2 separate regions of the Homo sapiens genome follow, and region 1 is linked to region 2. The links come from fine-mapping of genetic effects on gene expression. A gene starts in region 2. The other region holds a variant in brackets. All regions are shown on one strand. Distances are from middle to middle. Region 1 overlaps PRMT3 (protein arginine methyltransferase 3). Region 2 holds the start of PRMT3 (protein arginine methyltransferase 3).

Region 1 (12,155 bases), 45 kb before region 2:
TACCTTAAAAACTATGCTGCTGCCGGCCGGGCGCAGTGGCTCACGCCTGTAATCCCAGCACTTTGGGAGGCCGAGGCGGGCGGATCACGAGGTCAGGAGATTGAGACCATCCTGGCTAACATGGTGAAACCCTGTCTCTACTAAAAATGCAAAAAATTAGCCGGGCATGGTGGCGAGTGCTTGTAGTCCCAGCTACTCGGGAGGCTGAGGCAGGAGAATGGCATGAACCAGGGAGGCGGAGCTTGCATTGAGCCGAGATCGCACCACTGCACTCCAGCCTGGGCAACAGAGCGAGACTCCGTCTCAAAAATAACAACAAAAAAAACTATGCTGCTGCCACCACTGCCACAAACTTCTACAGCCTATACCACTGAGTCACTCATATTATTGCTGATGTTGAACACAGGTCAAGAAGCTGCAAAGAGACTATACCACTGCACCTATCTGGAAACATACTCACCACACCATTCCCAACTGGAACACTAATCTTTCCCTTTGCAACACTAGGAAGTCTAGAAAAGGCAACTGCTCCACCAGATGTCTACATCAAAAAAGTTGAATGATTTCAAATACAAAACCTAATGATGCATCTCAAACAACTAGAAAAGCAAAGTAGAAGGAAAGAAATAACAAAGGTCAGAGCAGAAATGAACAAAATTGAGACTTAAAAAATACAAAAGATCAATAAGAAAACCTGGTTTTTAAAAAAGATAAGCAAAATTGACACACCATTAGCTAGACTAACCAAGAAAAAAAAAGAGAAAACACCAAAATAAATAAAATCAGAAACAAAGAGACATTAAAATAGATACCATAGAATTATAAATGTTTATTAGAGACTATGATGAACAACTATATGCTAACAAATTGGAAAACCTAGAGGAAATGGATACATTCCTGGACACATACAACCTACCAAGATTGAACCAGGAATAGAAAATCTGAACAGAACACAAGTAACTAGATTGAATCTGTAATAAAAAGTCTATCAAAGAAAAATTCAGGACCCGATGCTTTCACTGCTAAATTGTACCAAACCCTTAAAGAACTAACACCGATTACTCTCAAACTCTTCCAGAAAATCAAGAGGGGGGATTTCTTCCAAACTCATTCTATGAGGTTAGCATTATATAGATAACAAAATCAGTTAAAGACACTATTAAAAAAAAAAACAAACTGCAGGCCAATATCCCAGATGAACACAGATGTAAAAGTCCTTAACAAAATACAAGCAAACTAAATCTTGTGGCACATCAGAAGATCACTTGCCATGATCAAGTGGGATTCATCCCAGATATGCAAGGATGACAAAATGTACACAAGTCAATAAACATGATACTTCAACAAAATGAAGGACAAAAGCCATATGATCATCTCAAAAGACACAGAGAAGCATCTGATAAAATTCAACATCCCTTCATGATAAATACTCTCAACAAGTTAGGCATAGAAGGAACGTACCTAACACAATACAGGCCATCAATGACAAACCCACAACCAACAACATACTGAATGGGGACAAGTTCAAACCATTTCCTCTTAGATATGGAATAAGATGAGGATGTCCACTTTCACCACTTTTATTCAACATAATACTAGCCAGAGCAATCAGGCAAGAGAAAGAAATAAAGGACATCCAAATTGGAAAGAAGGGAGACAAATTGTTCCTGTTTGAAGACGACATGATCTTATACAGAAAATCTAAAAACCTCTTAGAGCTGACAAACACATTCAATAAAGCTGAATGATACAAAATCAATATTCAAAAATCAGTAGCATTTCTATACCCAGGGGAAGTAATAAAGAAATCAAGAAAGCAATCCCATTTATATAACTACAGTAAAATAAAATACTTAGGAATAACTTTAAACAAAGAGTTGAAAGATCTCTACAATGAAAACTACAAAATACTGATGAAAGAAATTGAAGGGAACACACCAAAAATGGAAAGTGATCCCATGCTTATGAATTGGAAGAATTAATACTGTTGAAATAACCATACTGGCCAAAGTGATTTACAGATTCAGTGTAACAAAATACCAATGACATTCTTCGTAGAAATAAACAACCCTAAAACTTGCATGAAACCACAAAAGATCCTGAATAGCCAAAGTGATCCTGAGCAAAAACGGCAAAGCTGGAGGCATCACAATTCCTGATGTCAACAACCTATAGTAACCAAAACAGCATGATATTGGCATAAAAGCAGACACATAGACCAAAATAACTGAATAGAGAACCCAGAAATAAATCCATGCATTTACAGCCAACCGATTTTTGGCAAAGGTACCAAAAACATTTATTGGAGAAGGGACAGTCTCTTCAATTGTTGAGAAGAATGGATATCCATATGCAAACAAACAAACAAACAAAAATCAAACTAGATCCCTATCTCCTACCATATACAAAAATCAACTAAAAATGGTCTGAGCGCGGTAATCCTAGTACTTTGGGAGGCTGACGTGGGTGGCTGGCTTAAGCCCAGGAGTTCAAGACCATCCTGGGCAATATGGCAAAACCCCATCTCTACTGAAAACACAAAAATTAGCTGGGTATAGTGGCGCACACCTGTAGTCCCAGCTCCTCAGGATACTGGGGTGGAAGGATTGCTTGAGCCCAGGAGGCAGAGGTTGCGGTGAGCTGAGATGGTGCCACTGCACTCCAGCCTGGGCGACAGAAAATAAATGAATTAAAAAAATATCAACTAAAAATGGATTAAATATTTAAATGTAAGGCTTTAGATTATTAAACTAATAGAAGAAAACATAGGGGAAACGCTTCAGGACATTAGTCTGGGCAAAGATTTTGTGGAGATGATCTCAAAAGCACAAACAACAAAAGCAAAAACAGACAAATGGGATTATACCAAATTAAATAGCTTTTACAAAAAAATCCCATGCAGATGAGTAGAAGGATCAATATCATTGAAATGGTCACACTGCCCAAAGCAATGTATAGATTCAATGTTATTCCTATCAAACTACCAATGACATTCTTCACAGAACTAGGAAAAACTATTTTAAAATTCATATGGAACCAAAAAACAGTCCAAATAACCAAGGCAATCCTAAGCAAATAGAACAAAACTGGAGGTTTCACATTTCCCAACTTCAAACTATACCACAGGGCTACAGTAATAAAAACAGCACAGTACTGGTACAAAAACAGACACATAGACCAATGGAACAGAACAGCGGACCCAGAAATAAAGCCACACACCCACAACCTTCAATCGGATTGAAGATCACAATCTAATCTTCAACAAAGCTGACAAAAACAAGCAATGAGGAAAGGACTCCCTATTCACTAAATGGTGCTGGGATAACTGCCTAGCTATATGCAGAAGACTGAAATTAGACCCCTTCCTTTCAACTCAAGATGGGCTAAAGACTTAAATGTAAAACCCAAAACTATAAAAACCCCGAAAGACAACCTAGGCAATACCATCCTGGACATAGGAACAGGCAAAGATTTCATGACAAAGATGCCAAAAGCAATTGCAACAAAAGCAAAAACTGACAAATAGGGTTTAATTAAACTAAAGAGCTTCTGCACAGCAAAAGAAACCATCAACAGAGTAAACAGACAACCCTTAGAATGCAAGAAAATATTTGCAAACTATGCATCTGACAAAGGTCTAATAACCAGCATCTATAAGGAATTTAAACAAATTTATACAAAAAGCAAACAACCCCATTAAAAGGTGGGCAAAGGACATGAAGAGACACTTTTCTAAAGAGGACATGCATGTGGCCAACAAGCATATGAAGAAAAGCTCAATATCACTGATCATTAGAGAAATGAACATCAAAATCACAATGAGATACCATCTCACACCAGTCAGAATGGCTATTATTAAAAAGTGAAAAAATAACGGTGCTGGCAAGATTGAGGCGAAAAGGCAACACTTAAACACTGTCTGAGTGTCAATTAGGTCAAACATTGTGGAAAGCAGTATGGTAATTCCTCAAAGAGCTAAAAACAGAACTACCAGGCCAGGTGTGGTGGTGCACGCCTATAATCCCAGCACTTTGGGAAGCCGAGGTGGGCAGATCACTTGAAGTCAGCAGTTCAAGACCAGCCTGGCCAACATGGTGAAACCTCATCTCTACCAAAAATACAAAAATTAGCCAGCACGGCGGTACATGTCTGTAGTCCCAGCTACTCTGGAGGCCGAGGTTGGAGAATTGCTTGAACCTGGGGGGTGGAGGTTGCAGTGAGACAAGACTGCACCACTGCACTCCAGCCTGGGAGACAGAGTGAGACCCTATCTTAAAAAAAACAAAAACAAAACAAAACAGAACTACCTTGTGACCCAACAATTCCATTACTGGGTATATACCCAGAGAAATAAAAATCATTCTACCATAAAGAGCAAGATGCACATGAATGTTCATTGCAGCATTATTCACAATAACAAAGATACGGAATTGGAATCAACCTAAACATCCATCAGTGACAGAGTGGATAAAGAAAATGGTGTCACAGATACACCATAGAATACTATTGCAGCCATAAAAAAGAATGAGATCATGTCTTTTGTGGGAACATGGATGGAGCTGGAGGCCATTATCTTTAGCAAACTAATACAGCAACAGAAAACCAAATACCACATGTTCTCACTTATAAGTGGGAGCTAAATGATGAGAACTCACGAATACGAGAAGGGAACAACAGACACTGGGGCCTACTTGAGGGTAGAGGTTGGGAGAAGGGAGATGAGTAAAAAAAAAATAACTATTGGGTACTAGGCTTAGTACCTAGGTGATGAAATAATTTGTACAACAAACCCCCATGGCACAAGTTATTACCTAAATAACAAACCTGTATATGTATTCCCAGATCTGAAAGAAAAAAAAAGCCACTAAAAAAGTAAATAAAGTTTCTGCACAGAAAAGAAAACAAAAGAGTAAAGAGATAATCTGCAGAATGGGAGAAAATATTTGCAAATTATTTATCCAGTAAGAGATTAATATCCAGAATATATAAAGAGCTCAACAGCAAAAACCCAAATAATCTGATCAAAAATGGGCAAATAAACTGAATAGACATCTCTCAAAAGAAGACATATAAAAGGCCAGCAGGTATATTAAAAAATGCTCAACATTACTAACCATCAGGAAAATGCAAACAAATTATAATGTGATATTATTTCATGCCAGTTAGAACGGCTGTTATCAAAAAGACAAAATAAGGATGCAAGGATGCAGAGAAGGAGAATTCTTATACACTGTTGGTAAGAATATAAATTAGTACAGCCATTATGAAAAAGAGTATAGAGGTTCCCCAAAAAACTAAAAATAGAACTATTATATGATCCAACAATCACACTACCGGGTATACATATTCAAAAGAAAGGAAAACAGAATGTCAAAGAAATGTCTGTACTCCCACATTTATAACAGCACTATTCACAATAGCCAAGATACAGAATCAACCTAAGTGTCTATTAAGAGTTGAATGGACAAAAAAAATGTGACATATATACACAATATACAGTTTATAGGAGACAATTTGTATTTATAATAAATGCTTATGTGCCTACAAATGTAAGCTGTAAATTTGAAGGGTTTACTTTTACTCCCAGGTAGAAG[T/C]AAACAGTATTACTGATAAAATATTTTTAAGTTGTTATACAATTTTAGAGTTTAAAATAAAAATTAACAAATATTTTGTGTTCTCTGAGGGATTACCTGAAAAATGTTTGTAAGGGCAGTTGATTCATGTTCCTGAATAACTTAACCTTTTAATATTCATGATTAGAATACTTTGTCACTTATCGAAGATTGAATAAAAGAAAGGCTAGGAAGTGGTTAAGAGCACAGACAAGAACAAAAATATAGATTATAAGACCAAAATAATTATACACAAGGGACCTATTACATTTCTATTCCCTTTGCTTTCATTTTATTCTTGATTCAGATGTTAGCATATCTATGAAAAAATATGAACCACAACTTTTCTTTCATTGTTCAAGTACTATAAATATCTCCCTGTTAATACTTAACAGTACTAGAAAACAGTACTGCGGAATGGGAATTTTATATTTTATCTAAAATTATTAGGCATTGTCAGCACTGCCTAAAAATTGTTTCCAAGGCAGCAAACTGAGAATTATGCTTGAAATATACATAAAGTACATTTTGATTCAACTAACATTAAGAAAAATACCAAGAATACCCCAAATCCCAATAACTCACATCCATCAGCTTACTTTCATACTTCTGTATACCAACCACAGACAGTCAATTAGTAAATGCTAGACATGGAAAGAGAAAGTCTTCCGCTTTTACAAAGGGCTTTAAGCAAGGGAGAAGCCCTAAGAATGTTCTTCCTCCAAGAATTAATATTCTTTATTTCATGTATATGATTATTTTCAACTGTTATTTATTGAATTAGCTAGTGTAGTAGCTCGCTCATGAGTTACAGAGTACTTAAAAGTTTGTATAACTTTCAAAACTGAATACCTAAGTTATTGAGATCTTATGTGCCAGAAACTGTTCTAAGAAATTTGCATGTATTAACTCATTTAATCCTCACAAAAAAACCTTATGAAGTAGGTAATACTGTTATTTTCATTTTATAGAGAAGGAAACTGAGGCACAGAGAGGTAACATGCCCAAGAATGGAGGTAGTTTGCCTCTGGAGCAACATTCTTAACCCTGTCATATACTATATCTCCATGCCTTCATGTATTGTACATAAAATTATAAATGTCTGAGGCCAGCGAATTTCTGTTTGGGAACGTTCTCTTACAATTTTACAATTCACATTCCGTCATCATTTACTAATGCTAAGCCTCGTGGACTTAGTCTATGTGTTTGCAAAGTTATGCTGAAAACATAGAGGAAATATAGCAACACCAAATGAGTCAATTTGGCTTACTGAGTCGGAATTAGGGATGCTTATTTTGAACAGTTTTATTAAGTAGGCAGAAATAAGAAGCAATAAAGAACAGCTCTCAAAACAAGAACTTCTATTGGTAGACTAAAATGTAAAAAATGAGGACACATACACAAAGACATAGGTATTAACATCTTCCAGGGATTAAACTGTTTACATTTAACTGAAACAATTTTGTCAAACAGAAATTCCATCTGATAAAAATGAAAATGTAGAGCATGATGACTACAGTTAGTAATATTGTATTGTATATGAAAAATTTCCTAAGAGAATAGATTTTAGGTGCTCTTATTACATACAGAAAGACAGGTAAGTATGTGAGATGACAGACATGTTAATTTGACAGCAGTAATAATCTCACTGTGTAAATCAAAACATCATGTTGTACACCTTAAATATATAAAATAAAAAGAAAACTTCTCTTAAATAAAAACAAAAATGAAAATATAAAATTAAAGGCAAGCCTAGAACTGGAAATTTGTTAATGCAAGCCAAGTGATTGTTTATTAAATAACATGCTAACAGCAATAATTTAGCTTTTAAAATTACATTCTTATCTAGAAAAATCTTCCAAAATAAAGACAAAAATTCATGAACAGGTGCAGACTAGAAACATATTTAGATTAAGCCATGGAATAGTTAGTGGACCACAGTAGAAGAAAACATGTACATCTCTGCTATATGATTTCTACACTGCTATACCGGATTACACATCCATTAAACATCTGTGCCCAATTCTGGAGGGTATATTCTATTTTTGTCTTTCCTTGTTGAAAATACTTGTAAAAAGAGAAAAAAAATGCTTAACTATGGTTCATTCTAGATTTTTGCATCTTTATTATGTTGTATGTAAAAAATAAAATAAATAAAGACAGGAGTCTGTGCAATTTAAGTTTAAAATGCTGGTTCATGAAAATGTGGCTACAGATTTAAAATAGTTGTTTACCATTTGCCTACTGTTTCAGCCAATGCGCCTGAAACATGGAGGATAAAGTTTAGAAAGCATACCTGCCCTTTGTTTAATTATGTAATTGATGTTTTCCAGCTTCTCAAATCAAAAATCCTAATGAAAGTACCAAATAAAGTTAGGGACTTCTAGGATTTAGAAGATACCATAAATGATATTTCCAATCCACAAAGATGATTGAAAATAATTTAGCACAAGCCTTCTTAAGCCTTAAATGCAAATTTCACCAGAGAAATAAGGCCATCCAGAGCTGACTGCCATAGAATAACTGCTGTAAGTTTAGTGTCCAATGCCCCACCTAGAGCACTTAAAACAGTTGCTAGACTTCAACTCACTTAAAACAAGGAAAGGCAGACAGTGAGATAATACAAATGCTTAAGTAACACCTTTGTGGTGAGGAAGAAGAAAAGTTCTTAGTTATCCCTTCCTGAATACACTGATTTGTTTTTCATTACTGGTTTCGAAGAACCTTGGCTTCCAAACAACTGGCTCCTTTCATCTCAGGCTCCAGTGACTCCAGTGACTGCCTTCCTGATGAAGAGAGAGGTCTTACCTGACCAACGCTCTGAAGTGAAAGGTGTTCTTTATTTCAGTTAGAGCAAGTCCCCAGCCCCCAAGCCAGGGATGGGTACTGGTCCGTGGCCTGTTAGGAACTGGACTACACAGCAAGAGGTGAGTGGCAGGCCAGCATTACCACCTGAGCTCCGCCTCCTGTCAGATCAGCAGTGGCATTAGATTCTCACAGGAGCGTGAACCCTATTGTGAACTGCCCAAGTGAAGGATCTAGACTGTATGCTCCTGATGAGAATCTAATGATGTGAGATGGAACAGTTTTATCCTGAAACCATCCCATCCCCATCCCCCAATCCATGGGAAAACTGTCTTCCATGAAACTGGACCCTGGTGCCAAGAAGTCTAGGGACTGCTGAGTTACAAGCACAAACTAGGAAAAGAGAAACCACAAAAGCTATTTAAAATAGAGGAAATTTAATGTCAAAAGTCACTTATACAGAGGATAAAAGATATGAGCAGTCATCAAGAGAGTGAGACAACCAGACTTGACAATGCCCACAAGTAACTAGCATTCCTAGGCTACTGCTACAAGAACCCAGGGCTGGGGTTGCACAGTGGATGCTGGAATTTCAGCATGCCTGTTCGGTGGGAAGTGGAACCACAAAAGAAATAGCTTTTGCCAGCAACACACTAGAGATAAAGTAAGAAGGGAAGAAATGCCCTGGCTTCTCCCTTTCTTAAATCTTGGGAGATTTAGTGTTTCTAGTGTTTCCCATTGGGTTCCCCAAACTCAGCAGAAGTTAGCCATCATAGGAGCTTGGTAAAGGCAGCCTGCAGGGTTAGCCCTCCTTGGTACAGAAGAAAGCAGAAGGGTACAAAATGGATTCCAGTACAACTTTCAATAAAGTTCACATCATAAAGACAATCTCATGAATTCATTCAATCCAGCTAACTGCAGTTATTAAACCAGCTGGCTCTAAGATATCAATTGCCTATTAATAATTCTAGATCATCTTTCAGATTTGGAAGTGAAAAATCCTAGAACATCAATATCCAGCAGTATAATTCTGCTAGGCAGAGCAAGAACTATCCCATTAGTTATTGTAATCAGATATATAATAATGTTCAACTGAGGTAACAGGAAGTTTGGACAAGTCTTTCTTTTGGTTTGCCTATAAAGTCTATTTTGGAGTAATTTAAAAGATGCATTTTCTAAGAAGAGTAAAATATACAGCATAAACTATTTAAAATTCTTGTCTATATGCCTCAAATGTGCTTTCTCAGAAGCATCTTTTCATAGTCTTTAAAGAAATATTACATTTTTAATTCATATCTACTCTTTCAATTCATGAGAAATCAGAGTGCTGATACAAATTCTTTGGTGTGAGAATACTGATATTGTGACTAAAGGTTGTTTAAGGCCAATCTTAGCATTAAAAAAAAAATCAACATACTGTTTCACATACAAAATAGTAACTGTCAACAACTGTGACTGTCATCAGCTCTAGACTGGAACTCCCTACACTACTACATTAAATCTGAATATTCCAAAAGTTCCTTGAAACATCTATTTCACTAGGATTATAACTATGTTTATTCAAAATTTATAAAAAATTATAAAGCAAAACTCAATGTTTTCAAAATTTTTTGATAAATTTTATGAAAATATATCTACCAAACAGAACTTTAAGGAAAAAAATTATTTCAAAATAATTTAAAAATCTTTATTAGAAACACTATCCAGTTTATTTCTGTCAAATTGACATATCAGTAAGTCAAATCAGCTGTCAAATACATTTTTTTTTTCGAGGTGGAGTCTCGCTCTGTCACCCAGGTTGGGGTGCAGTGGCGTGATCCTGGCTCACTGCAACCTCCAACCTCCTGGGTTCAAGCCACTCTCCTGCCTCAGCCTCCCAAGTGGCTGGGATTACAGGTGCCTGCCACTACGCCCAGCTAATCTTTGTATTTTTAGTAGAGATGGGGTTTCATCACGTTGGCCAGGCTGGTCTCAAACTCCTGACCTCAGGTGATCCACCTGCCTCAGCCTCCCAAAGTGCTGGGATTAAAGGTGTGAGCCACCATACCCAGACTCCATTAATTTTATTTCCATATATTTAAAAATAAACATTCTGTCTTGACAAAAGATTTCAACAGCAAATTATAAAGCTATGTAACATACCTTCCTTTTAATATTTCAGTAACAGCAATAAATTCTATTTTATGTGATAATGGACATTGATTACATGGCCCAACAGATTAGAAAGATAGGACATTCAGTATGATAATGGTGGCAATATCATGTTAATTTTGATGAAACAGTCCTAATGAGTTCTTATTAGTCCCTGGAGGCTTTCAGGCAAACACTTAGGTATCTAAAACTTAGAAAGTAGAAAAATAATTTATCAGGACTTTTAAGATAAAAAAGATAATTTATCACTTTTTAAAGATTATGAATAGCCAATAAATAAGGGCCATTTCAGAATAAACTACAGTAAGAAGACTGTAGCTATTTTTTTAAATTACACATTATAGTATCTAATGTAGCTACTTAAAAAATAATGTCACCATTCTGCCATGTATCAAATATAATTAAATTCATGAAAACTATTACTTTAAAAAAGTTTTTTCATTTTACCAGTGAAAGTAGTTTTTTCTATAAACACTCACCATCCACTCAGATATGATAACATCTACTTTTTCTACAGGAAGATGAACTTCTTCAATCTTTCCTTTAATTAGTGTAATAGTATCTTCAAGTTTATTTAGTCTGAAAATTATAATGAATTAGATTAGTAGGTTAAACAGATTCTGAAAGCTAGTTAAATTACATAATTTTTTGCCAACAACTCGTATTGTTTTGTGGGACAAAAAAGTATTTCAATCAAAGCTTAGTTGTTCTTTGGACATTGTAATTATTTTATGGTTACTCCATGCATGCCCAAAGATGTTTGTGGTTAATATGGCAATACAGTGAACCAATATTTAAAATCTGAGTTTGAAAAGAAATCCAAATTTTATCAAGAATAACATGTCAATGAAGTTACATGTCTTTAAAACAAACAACACAGTGGTGAAGACAGACATATAAGACATATAAAAGTATGGTTTAAAGGGAAGTGTTGTGTCTGTCATAGGGGTGAGAGAATTTGAAGCCCCAAGCCCATAATTTAACCCCCAGATTCTCTAGCATTTGTCAGCTATGTGATCTTCACCAAATTTTTAAGTAATTTCGTTGAGCCTGTGCTACTCCTGTGTAAAAGAGAATAATACCGACCCTATTTACGTCACAGGCTATTAAGAGGATCAAATACTTGTGAAAGCTATACATGTATCTATAAACAATGACACTATCATCAACAACAAAACATTAAGTGTTAAAACCTGAAATCTTATCACTATCAAAAATTAACCTTGACCAGTGGCACTCATTAGATGTTCTTATACACTTGATCATAAGATTAGCAATATTTCCCCTTCTTCTGTAATATGAAACAACAGTTATTTTCACAAAGGTGAATGTAAGCTGCTGGTTAAGTTTACATCTGATTAATAAATTCTCAATTCTCAGAATGTACATTGTAACTATAGAGGATTTTTTTCCTGCATCAAAGAAGAAATTGTACCCCTTAACTTCATTGGGTATTATTTACAAACAATTCAGTGCATTCATTTTAGGGTAGTTTTGTTAAATTCCGAAAAACAGATACTTTGTTGACCACCACAATCAATATATAGAACATTTCCTCTTCCCCCAAAGATTAGTGCCCATCCCAGA
Region 2 (12,155 bases):
ATTAACTTGCTGGACGACTGCTTAACCAGCAGTTTCAACGCAGAGTTTTTTTTACTGTTTGGATTTGGGGAAAGCGTTGTCATGTCATTAAACATTCATTTAAACAGGACAAAAAAAAAAAAAAACAAAGTATCTGAAAAAAAACAGAATAAAAAAGAGCAACCAAAATACTTAAAATCACATTAGAAATTATTTCTGATTTTACAGATCCTGTCCATCAGTATTTCCCTTTATTTGACACTGAATTACTTTTTCACATACACCGATTCATCTCTTAGATGCAGTGAAAACAATATTTGTTAGTTATGGTAGACATTTACATGGTGCTTTCTGCTGTGCTACCTCCTAATGTCCGTGATTCCCCCAATATGATGAGTACCAAATTTAATGCAGTTCCTCATATTCTTTTAAATAATCAGTACACTGACAGTCACTGTAGCATTTCTTTGATTTCTAAACGAAATTATAAATTAAGCTGTCAACTTACCTTAAGTCTAATAAAATTTATTAGCTTAATGTATCCATAAAATTCAAGTCCTAAAGGGGGAAAAAGATAATTCACCTATGTTAACATAATGAGTTTTGTTTAACTGACCTATTCTATAAAGCCTTCTCTGATTAAACAATAAAATAATTCTGACCTCTAAATTACTACTTATATTTTGAATTTTATTAAGAATTAGAAGTAGTAATACAATGATACTTCTGAATATCTTGAGAAGCAGCCATAAATGACAAATTAAAGCTTTTCTAGTATTTCTAAAAAGATGGAAAACTGATTTCTAAAATTCTACTCCTCCTTTGTCAGAACAATACAAATCTGGAAAATTAAGATCCACATTTTACCAAGTATTTGGCAACTGATATCAGAGCTGAAAGTATTAAATCCCTAATTTTTATGGTGTGTATCAAATTATAATTTTGCCAGGACATGGTGTATACTAGCTTTTACATGAAGTTAAATGATGCAAGCCCAATAAGGCTTGTTATCTGGTTCTCGTATCTTTCCAGAAATGAAGCAGCATTTAAAACAAAGGAAAGCAGTAATACATCCAACCAACCAATTATTTGTCATAAAACTCTTGTTATGAGAAAACTTTAATAGTATACAAACCCCCTATATCGGTAAGTAAAAAAAAAACAAAACAAAATTCTATCTTAAGTATGATTCTAATACTTTAGAAATGCAACATTAAAAACATTAAGGCTGGGCACAGTGGCTCATGCCTGTAACCCCAGCACTTTGGGAGGCCAAGGCAGGCGGATCACCTGAGGTCGGGAGTTCCAGACCAGCCTGACCAACATGGAGAAACCCTGTCTCTCCTAAAATACAAAATTAGCCAGTGTGGTGGCGCATGCCTATAATCCCAGCTACTTGGGAGGCTGAGGCAGGAGAATCACTTGAACCCGGGAGGCGGAGGTTGCAGTGAGCCGAGATCGTGCCATTGCACTCCAGCCTGGGCAACAAGAGCGAGACTCCGTCTCAAAAAAAAAACAAAAACAAAAAACATTAAAAAATGAGGCTGTCATTTATGCCTTACGAAAGTACTTGCAGTTGAATTTATGATTTATAAACATGTGATATCACGTATTTATCTGACACTGAAACACCTGTTAGTATTTGCTATTCTTCAGTAATGTCCCTTCTTAGTTGTCAACAAATATAGGGACCAAAAAACCTATTATTTTTTTTTTTTTGAGACGGCGTCTCAGTCTGTCACCCAGGCTGTAGTGCAGTGGCATGATCTTAGCTCACTGCAACCTCCGCCTCCCGGGTTCAAGTAATTCTCCTGCCTCAGCCTCCCAAGTAGCTGGGACTACAGGCACATGCCACCATGCCCGACTAATTTTTTGTATTTTTAGTAGAGTTGGGTTTTCACTGGGTTAGCCAGGATGGTCTCGATCTCCTGACCTTGTGATCCATCCGCCTTGGCCTCCCAAAGGTTTTCACTGGGTTAGCCAGGATGGTCTCAATCTCTTGACCTTGTGATCCACCTGCCTTGGCCTCCCAAAGTGTTGGAATCACAGGCGTGAGCCACAGCACCTGGCCTATTTAGTTAATTTTATTGTAGTATAGCTCTTCTACATCCATTTAAAGTGGAAGGCCTTAATTGTAAGGCAAGTGTGTTTAAATAAAAGTTTCAATAGAAACATCACCTGAGTATTTTGCATATTAATCTTAACTTCATCACTCTTTTTCCAGTCTCTACCGAACTTTGTATAAAACTCAGTCTCGTAGGCTGTGAAGTTCATGTCATGCTTTGAGCTGATTGTCTTTTTTCAAATGACCTGCGTCCTTTTTCAAGTCCTACATCTACACTTGCTCTCCCTAAATCTAATATGTAATCACATAAAATGTAAAAATGTAATCACATGCCAAGTCTGTTTTTGTTTTTAGTTGAAAAGCTAATATAAGCTTAAATACAGTGAATCTTGTCTAGAAGAGTGACTTATTCATCTTTTCTCAAGGACCGCTTGTCAAAAAAACTCCATTTCCACAAGATGTTGCTGTGTGATTCGCCATATTAAACTCGTACAGAAAAGGGTCTGAAAAACTATAAAATCTGAACTTATATTTCACAGATTTTTTTTTTTTTTGAGAAGAGTCTCACTCTGTTGCCCAGGCTGGAGTGCAGTGATACCATCTCAGCTCACTGCCACCTCTGCCTCCCAGGTTTAAGCAATTCACCTGCCTCAGTCTTCTGAGCAGCTGCTATTACAGGTGTGCGTCACCACACCCAGATAACTTTTGTATTTTAGTACAGGTGGGGTTTCAGCATGTTGGCCAGGCTGGTCTTGAACTCCCGACCTAAAGTGATCCACCCACCTCAGCCTCCCAAAGTGCTGGGATTACAGGTGTGAGCTGCCATGCCTGCCCAAATTTCACAAATTAAATTGCCTTTATTCTAAAAACTACTCACCATGTTTATGAACCATGCTGTCAATATTAAACTGATGCTCAGACTTACAGTGTGAAAATGTTTCTTCAGCAGATGTGAATAACCTGAAAAATCAAGCAATAGCTTCATGGAATAGTCCCCTAAGAAGTCTAAATACTGATTTCATGTTACATATACACTTTTTTTTTTTTTTTAACTCTGCTGGTTTCTAGTTTTACTTCCAATTAAGAAAAAACAAACACACTTGTATCTGAAAGGAAGGGAATCCAGCACTTTTAAAGGGAATTAGTACTTCTGAGTCCCATTTTATACCTAAAACCAATTATCCTTTAAATGTCAAAGTGAATTTATTTGTCAAATAATATCACTGATTTTATCAAAAGGCTTTTAAGAGAGTTCCCTTTGATAGAGTCTGTTTCTCTCAAGTCATACAATTTCTCTACTTGAGATTCTTTTCTCCTCTAAGTGTCAACTCTGCTTTCAGAGGCTTTGAACTGGCACAGCTCAAACTGCTTTTAGAAATAAAGCATAAAATGTAATTTTACAGCTGGCATACTCCCCAAGTGCCTTATTTCAAAAGTGATCTTGTAGTATTCCCAACGTACTTGCATCACAGACACTGTGAGGATCAATCCTCTTTATTATGTGACATGCAAATCTGAAGGCTACTTAAAGACAGGAATACACAGCAGAGAAGCTGTATACCTTATCTATATTCCTAACACATGTGGAGCATTAGTTTTCCACAAATGTTTACCGAGATAGGTTATGTCGACTATTTATGGAGGCTATCACAGCCACGGTACCACTGGTGCTCAATAAATATTTTATGACAACTAGAATATATACAGGCATTCTATCTACCCAATGGGGCTACAGATGAGAACACTAACGCACCACCACTCAGCACCATGCCCAGATACAGGGAACACTGGAAAATGTATTAAAGTAACACCGGCCAATGCCAACCGGGCCTCTTTCATGCCTACTTGCCTAGGACAGGAGCCAAAGCTTCCCAAGACTAACAGGCAGAATTTTAAGTGGCAAGAATGTGAGTTTGGAAATAAGCACACCACAGCTTTGTGACCTTGAGCAAATTATTGATACTACAGTCTTTTTCCTTAAGTGAAAAGTCCTACTTAAGTAAGGTGAACTTCCTTCTTAGACTATGGAAACCGCTCAAATAAAAAAGAAATGTTTCACCTGAGAAGCTCTGTACTGGTCAAAGAATTAGCATGGTAAAGCCGGAAGGCTCCGTAGGGATTATCTAGTTCAGGGTGGCTGCCAAATATGTTACTCGTTAGTAGTAACTCGTTAGTAACTTCACTGTTACTTCCGATCTTGTCCTCATAAAAACAGAATATTCTTAGACCCCATCCCTGACTTGGAAGGATTCAGGTGCAGAGTTCAGTATCATTTTGTTTTCAGCGTCTCAAGTGACAAGATTTGGGAACCACAGATTCAATGCACTACCAGTCAAAAGCTTGCAGTACAACCGGCCTTCCAGTTCACGGTTCCCCCTCTCTACTACCGAGGGTCCTCCTTCTCCACAAGCCCTCACCCCAGACCAGTGGTTCCAGAATTCAAAGACAGGCCACTCTGGCTTGCCTCCCGCCCGAAGGCGTTCCTGGGCACACAGACCCCACGCGCCCGGGCACCCTAGGGCAGAGGCCAGGCGCTGAGGCGGACGAACCTGTTACAGAACAGGCAGGGGGTCTGCTGCTTGCCGTGGGGGAGATCTGCATCGTCCTCATCCTCCCAGGCGGCCTCGTCCCCGCTGTCCGACAGTTCTGGCAGGTCCTCCTCATTCTCCACAGCGCCCCGGCCGCCTAACACACACACACAACAATCAGATCGGCCTCGGACACCGGTGCGGCCCGGGGGCTCGAGGAGCAGGTGACGATGGGCTCTCCTCCGCCCCGTTCGCCCGCGGCCCTCACTCAGCACCTCCTTCATGATCCCTGCGAGCCCCCCACCCTGCCCGGGCCCGTGTCCCGGAGGGTCTTCCACCGGCCCCACAGCGGCGCGGCCTGGGGCTGGACGAGCCGGGTGCTGAGGGGCCAGGGTACCCACCGGTAGCGCCTGACGCTAACGAGCACATGGCTGTGGTGCCCCGAGAGCCCGGCGTGTCTGGGGGCGGGGACCGGGTTGGGCAACGAGCGCGCGCAGCGGCCGCCGACTCCAGGAACGAGCGCGAGCACAAGCGCGAACCCGCGGCGGGACCCGGGCTCCGGAAACTTCGCAGACCGCCGGGAACGCCGAAGCGCGCGCGCTGGCTCGCAATCGCTTCCGGCCTCGAGGCGCCGTGCGGGTCACGTGAGGTGGGGGCGGGGCGAGAGCGGGGGCTCCGCCTCCTCCTGCCGCAGGGTTGGCGCAGTGCGCGCTGAAGAGGCGCGCTGATGACGGTTAATGTTGCAGCCCGGAAGATGACTTTTGTCTCCTCCTTGGGTTGCGGCAGGCGTTAGTGGGAGGTCGCGGCCCGCTGCTGTGAGCCCCAAGGCAGAGAGACGTCGCTGCGGTTTTGGGGTTGGCATCCTGTCCTCTGTGCGCCCCTTTTTCCTGGGATGAGCGGTTAGCGGAGGGGCGATCGGCCCATGACGCCCTCTGGTGGCGGAGGAGGCCAAACGCTGGAGGCTCGGCTGGTTTCTGGGCTCCCAGGTCCTGGAGGGGGTGCAGCTGGCGAGAGGGAACGAACTGCATGGGCCAGGGTGGGTCTACTGCAGGGACAGATAGGTGTCAAACCCCCCAAGACGGATTTTAATCTTTGGTTAAGTGAGAACGTGAACTCTAGAGGCAGCCTGCTGGGTTTGAATCCTACCCACGTCACTTTGTAACTGTGATCTTGGGCAAGTTACTCGACCTCTCTCTGCCTCAGTTTCATCAAATACAAAACAAGGATAATAACTGCACTTGGGCAGGGCACGGTGGCTCACGTCTATAGTACCAGCACTTTGGGAGGCTGAGGCGGGCGGATCACCTGAGGTCAGGAGTTGGAGACCAGCCTGGCCAACATGGTGAAACCCTGTCCCTACTAAAAATACAAAAATTAACCAGGTGTGGTGGCACGCGCCTGCAATCCCAGCTACTTGGGAGGCTGAGGCAGGAGAATTGCTTGAGCCCGGGAGGCGGAGCTTGTGGTGAGCCGAGATTGTGCCACCGTACTCCAGCCTGGGCAACAGAGCAAGACTCCATCTTAAAAAAAAAAAAACAAAAAACAAAAAACCTGGACTAACTTCAGAACTACAGTAAGGATAAAACGAGTTAATACATGTAAAGTGCTCAGACATAACTATTTAAGCCAGGGAGTGATGCTCTCAGATGTGTTGAGAAAGTAACAATCTGGCTGCTGTGTGGGGAAGAACACAAATGTTCCCCTGCCTGCCTCATGCCACGTCCCTTTCTTCCTTTCCTTATATCTCTTCAAACCATAGAACTTTTTTTTGTTTGATTTTTGAGACGGAGTTTCGCTCTTGTTGCCCAGGCTGGAGTGCAATGGCACGATCTCAGGCTCACCGCAACCTCCACCTTCCGGGTTCAAGCGATTCTCTTGCCTCAGCCTCCCGAGTAGTTGGGATTACAGGCATGCGCCACCACGTCCGGCTGATTTTGGATTTTTAGTAGAGACAGGGTTTCTCCATGTTGGTCAGGCTGGTCTGGAACTCCCGACCTCAGGTGATCCACCTGCCCGCGAGCCACCGCCCGGCCCAGAATTCTTGCTTAGGAGGGAGTGCCCCAGGCTCTAGCAGAGTTTATCTAATTGGCCTATCAGGCCCTGCATAATCCTGCCTCTTTCCAATGGAACCCTTCACCTTGGGTCCCACCCTTAAGCCTTTTATTTACTGCTAATCATTGAATGTTCTACACATGGGTAGGTCCCTTTGGTCTCAACCAGAAACACTTTCCTCAGGCCATTTCTAAAATAGTTTCCACCATTATTTCAGGAGTATCCTGTTAGTTTCTTAGCACCCACCATTTGCTTACTTGATTTTTTTTTCTTTTTTGGTGATACCCCACAGCACTGAACAATAAGGGTAAGTAAGGGCCATGTCTCTTTACTTTCATTTCTCTGGCACATAATATGTGGCCTGGCCCATAGTATTAATAGATACTGAATGTATTCACTGAATAAAAATGATGCCTTATATTATTGCTAAATGTACTTCTAAATGTACTTTTCTCCCTTAATTGTAAATTCCTAGAGGACAGAATCCATTAAATATTAGTTTTTGTTTTTGTTTTTCTTTGAGACAGAGTCTCGCTCGGTTGCCCAGGCTGGAGTGCAGTGGTGCGATCTTGTCCCACTGCAACCTCCACCTCCCAGGTTCAAGCGATTCTCCTGCCTCAGCCTCCCAAGTAGCTGGGATTATAGGTGCTCACCACCATGCCTGGCTAATTTTTATATTTTTAGTAGTGACAGGGTTTCACCATGTTGGTCAGACTGGTCTTGAACTCCTGACCTCAAGTGATCTGCCCACCTCGGCTTCCCAAAGTCCTGAGATTACAGGCGTGATTGACCGCACCCGGCCCAAATATTAATTTTGAAGCTTTCTTACATCCTAGGACATTGCCAGAATAGCTGCTGGCTCTCTTGAGTTGGAGTCATCGTTCATGGATGCATCCCCAGTGCCTGTGTGCTCAGTGGCACATGAAAGGCACTGAATAAGCATTTGCTGAATGAATTAATGAACACTTGATTACCTGGGCCCATCCAACTTTTCCCTTCATCCTTCCAACATAAACTTTTTCTGTCTGTGTAACATTTGGTGGAAAACTTCCTGAATCCCTTAGTACTAAATGGAACACCCAGTCCATTCAGTGTTGACAATAAAACAAGTTAACACCCATTGTGGAGGAGTGATTGGGCCAGAGTCTTGTTCCTTAGTAAGTTCATATCTCACCACAATGCAGAGCTCAAGAGAGGGCTGCTTTTCTCTCTACTCCAAAGGTGAACACAGACCCTTCCTCATTATCCCACATCACTACTGAGACCAGAATAACATGTTGAATGAAACCTGCTCGAAGGTTTGTGAGTAAGGAAATAATATAAGGAGAATAACTTAAAACAGGCCACTGGGTTTAGCTGCTTTCAGAGCCCAGAGGCCTCAACATATCCTCGGCCCATGCTTTTTCACCATCAAAACAACACACTTAGGCTCTTCAAAGTCCAACTCCCAGGGAACCCCACCTGGCAGAAGGAAGATATTTCATTTCCTTTTAAAGCTCACATTTCAATATCCCACCCTGCCCTAAAATATGCCTCTTTTTTGGGTGACTGACACTGGGAATGTCTTCTCCCTTCTAAGGATATACACTCCAAATTAAGGAGAATGGCCTTTATCCTCCAGTGTATACTGAAGCTTGAAATGTACTTGGCATACAGTAGGCCTTGGAAGAATTGACTGAGTCCCTCGAATCACTTTGCTTCCCTGGTGCAGACGTTAAGACAAGTTACATTAACATCTTTTGTTCTATGATGGAAATTAGCAATGTATGTTCCTCTTGGCTTTGACCCTTCCTTCTGCATCTTCCTTTGCCTTAATTTTTAAAGTGCAGCAGCATGAGCACTTTAAAGTTTGGTGGCATAGAATTTTACTGGCTATGTGAACATTTAGTAATTAATCACTAGAACAAAGGAGAAACCCAAATATTTCGATTTTGTTCATCCACAACATGTAGTAACAATCAACTGGAACTACCTGGAAATATACGGGAACAGAATGCTTTTGCAGGGTGCTTAAAAACACGATATATGGGATCTATGGGATCAGGCAGACCTGGGTTAGAATCCTGACTCTGCCATTTCTTTGCTTCAGTTCTTCAGATTTGGACTCTTGAGCAAGGCACTTAACCACAGTGAGCCTCATTTCCCCATCTAAGACATGAAGATCATGATAGTATCACTTTATAAGGATTGTTTATAAGAGGGTTAAAGCACAGATAACACATGTAAAGACTGGTACTTAGCAAGCATTTGGTAAATATTAGCTGCTATTATATCACCCCATAGGCTGAAATGCTGCATATCACACTACATGGGCATTTTCAAGCAATCTAAGAGGCACCCAGGAGTTGTCCATTCATCTTTATTCCTTTATTTAATCCTCCCCATGTATTATATAAGCTTAGGTATATAACTTCTATTACATAAAGAAGTAGTAAAGGCACAATGTTTACTTACACAATTACATGTAGTGAATTAGCACTTTTGTAACTCAGAGACATGAATGTCAACAATTTTAGAGCAGAGCTCATTTGCACGGTCATAAGGTTTTCATGGCTGCTGTGACTCTGCAGACAAGCATTTCAAAGCAGGCCCCCCAGCCAGTGGCATCGGAACCAGTGGCATCAGGGGAAGTATAAACAAAGAAAATTACAGATTATTGTGCCCACACCCCAGAAATTTTGATTCAAGTTTGAGATAGGGCTGACAAATCTTTATTTTTCCAAAGCTCCCTGAGTGATCTATATGTATAACCAGGCTCTGAACCACTGATGCAGAGCACCATCATTTCTTGATTGGAATGGATGCCTGAGGATAGTAAAACAACAAAGTTAAAACATGCTGACTTTTTTTAGACCCTGAAATTACCGATTTGGTGATGGGTGTTAAGGTTGACAATAAAAACCATTTCTCCAATGTGGTCATGGCTTGAGAGAGCCATGCGCTTTCCCCAGGTCATGGATGGCCTTGTTCTCCAGCAGTTCCATCTGCTTGTCTCTTGGTCTCACCACATTGTTCAGCATTGCTCTAACCACGGTCACCACAGGCACAGAATGCCCACTGGCCCAAGAGTCTGGTAAGGAGCCAAAGAACTTTCTAACCAGCCATTCACCTGGGCGAGATTCTTGCCTATCACATAACAGAACTCTAAAATAAAAAAAAAAAAAAAAGAAAGAAAAGCAGAGGAAGAGGTGGTAAATTGCACTGAGACCACAGTGGGCATTACGGACAAAACTGTATCCCCTCAATATTCTAATGTTGAAGCCCTAATCCCCAAGGTGTCTATATTTGAAGATAAGGCATTAAGGGAAGTAATTAAGTTTAATGAGGTCTTAAGGATGGAATAGGACTAGTGTGATGGGACTGGGGTCCTCATAAGAGGAAGAGACATCAGAGGTCTCTCTCTGTCTGCATACACTAAGAAGAAAGGCCATGTGAGGACACTGCCAGAAGGTGGTCTGTCTGCCAGCCAGGAAAAGAGGCCTCACCGGACACCAACCCTGAGGGCACCTTGATCTTGGACTTCCAATCTCCAGACTGCGTGAAAAAAAATTTCTGTTGTTTAAGACACCCAATCTGTGTGGTATTCTGTTATGGCAACCCAAGCAGACTAATACAGTAGACGTAAGGTTTTATTTGGCACATGAAGAGGATTTAAGAAGGCAGCAAATGCTGTCCAGGAAGTTCCAGACTATTCTGAAGCAGGCCCCACCATCTACCCTTTCTTTCTAAGCAAAAAGGTGTGTCCTTCAGAGAAGCAATCTACCTCTAGCCAATGTCTTTCATATCTTAGATATTTCAGCTGTCAGCCTTTCCAAATGAAAAATTAGTATCTAGGGATTAACCATCAGTGGCATACTCTCATTCAGTATAAATATTATACTTACCCAGGCCTAAATACAGAGTAACGATCAAATTTTAATTCTTCAACCTTGGCTTCTACTTCTCCCTATTAAGAAAAAACACATTTTCAGTATTTAATCGCGACCAGCTCACCTGTGTGAAGTTTAAGAGAGAATAATTTGTGGTTTTGAGATAATCTGCTTTTGCAGATCTCAATACTCAAAATATCCTTATCTAGAATTTTAGGTTCCAAGGAGTCTGGGAAATTAAGGAAGAGATCATTTAATCCTGATGTGTAGTCTTTCATTTAAAAGATCCACTAAATGAGTGAATGGCTGCATAGTCAGTCCTCTCACTTTATTGATATTAAAACAGATTCAGAGAGGGTAAGTCATACGTTAGTACAATCATAAAAGAATATCCTCTATTTAGTCCAGAATTCATGTTGCATGCTAGCAGACACTAACGTTTTTTTGGTTTATAGGTAGTTCCAGTGGGTCAGAAAACCATAGACCCACTATATTACTCACTTCTTAAACCTCACAAAATTTTAAGACAGATTACATCTAGATGATGCTTTAAATCTAATTTGTTAAATAAAGCATGCATTTTCATGGCAGGCATCTCTGGAAACAAAATGCCTGAGGAGCTCAGCCCACAGGCACTTCCAAAGGCCTGTGAACTACCACACGGTCATGCACGCCTCCTTCTTGGCCTGTGTGTACCACTCAATTGGCACTTAACCTGTCTCATCACAGACATTTAAGTAGCTATTTTTAAATATCTTTTTCTTTTTAAAAATTTTTTAATTTTAATTATTTATTTATTTATGTATTTTTTGTGTGTGATAGAGTCTCACCATGTCACCTAGGCTGAAGTGCAAGGGCATGATCTTGGCTCACTGCAACTTCCACCTCCCAGGTTCAAGCAATTCTCCTGCCTCGGCCTCCCAAGTAGCTGGGATTACAGGCATCCGCCATTATGCCTGGCTAATTTTTGTATTTTTAGTAGTGACGGGGTTGTCACCATGTTGACCAGGCTGGTCTCGAACTCCTGACCTCAAGTGATCCACCCGCCTCAGCCTCCCAAAGTGCTGGGATTACAGGCGAGAGCCACCGCGCTTGGCCATTCTTTTTTTTTTAATAGGTGGTTTTTAGTATATACACAGAACTCTGTAACCTTCATCACGATCTAAGTTTTAAAATATTTCATCACCCTGAAAAGAAATCCCATATCATTAGCAGTCACTCCTCGTACCCTACCCTCTGGGGACCTAGTCAACCACTAATGTACCTTCTATCTCTATAGATTTGCCTATTCTGGACATTTCATATAAATGAAATCATATAATTCGTGGTCTTTTGTGACTGTCTCCTCACACTTAGCATAATATTTTCAAGGTTCACCCATGTTGTAGTATGTATCATTTCTTTTTATAGCTGAATAATATTCTATTGCATGAATATATCACATTTTATTCATCTATTCATCAGTCGATGGCTATCTAGGTTGTTCCCACTCTTTGGCCATTATAAATAATGCTGCTATGAACAGTCATACACAAGATTTTATGTGTACACACATTTCTTAGCTTTTTTTTTTTTTTTTTTTTGAGATGGAGTCTCACTCTGTCGCCCAGGCTGGAGTGCAGTGGCGCAATCTCAGCTCACTGCAAGCTCCGCCTCCCGGGT

The links. PIP is the estimated chance that this variant, and not a neighbour inherited with it, causes the effect.
Region 1: its variant is fine-mapped to the expression of PRMT3 in whole blood (TOPMed, PIP 0.98).

What each region holds. Positions count from the first base shown.
Region 1 is chr11:20,425,758-20,437,912 of GRCh38, reverse strand. PRMT3 (protein arginine methyltransferase 3) reads right to left here. Exons shown (of 16, transcript NM_005788.4): 10 at 11,048-11,147. Among named protein-coding and RNA genes, the nearest start is that of PRMT3, 44 kb to the right of the region's middle. The variant T/C (reference allele first, on the strand shown) is at 5,595.
Region 2 is chr11:20,380,593-20,392,747 of GRCh38, reverse strand. PRMT3 (protein arginine methyltransferase 3) reads right to left here and starts at 5,032. Exons shown (of 16, transcript NM_005788.4): 1 at 4,974-5,032; 2 at 4,594-4,729; 3 at 2,922-3,004; 4 at 488-537. The coding sequence starts at 5,001. HTATIP2 (HIV-1 Tat interactive protein 2) reads right to left here. Exons shown (of 5, transcript NM_001098522.2): 4 at 10,509-10,570; 5 at 8,966-9,768. The coding sequence ends at 9,543. RefSeq lists enhancers at 4,162-4,211, 4,067-4,673, 4,674-5,281, 5,155-5,324, 7,204-7,705 and silencers at 4,762-5,321, 7,638-7,838.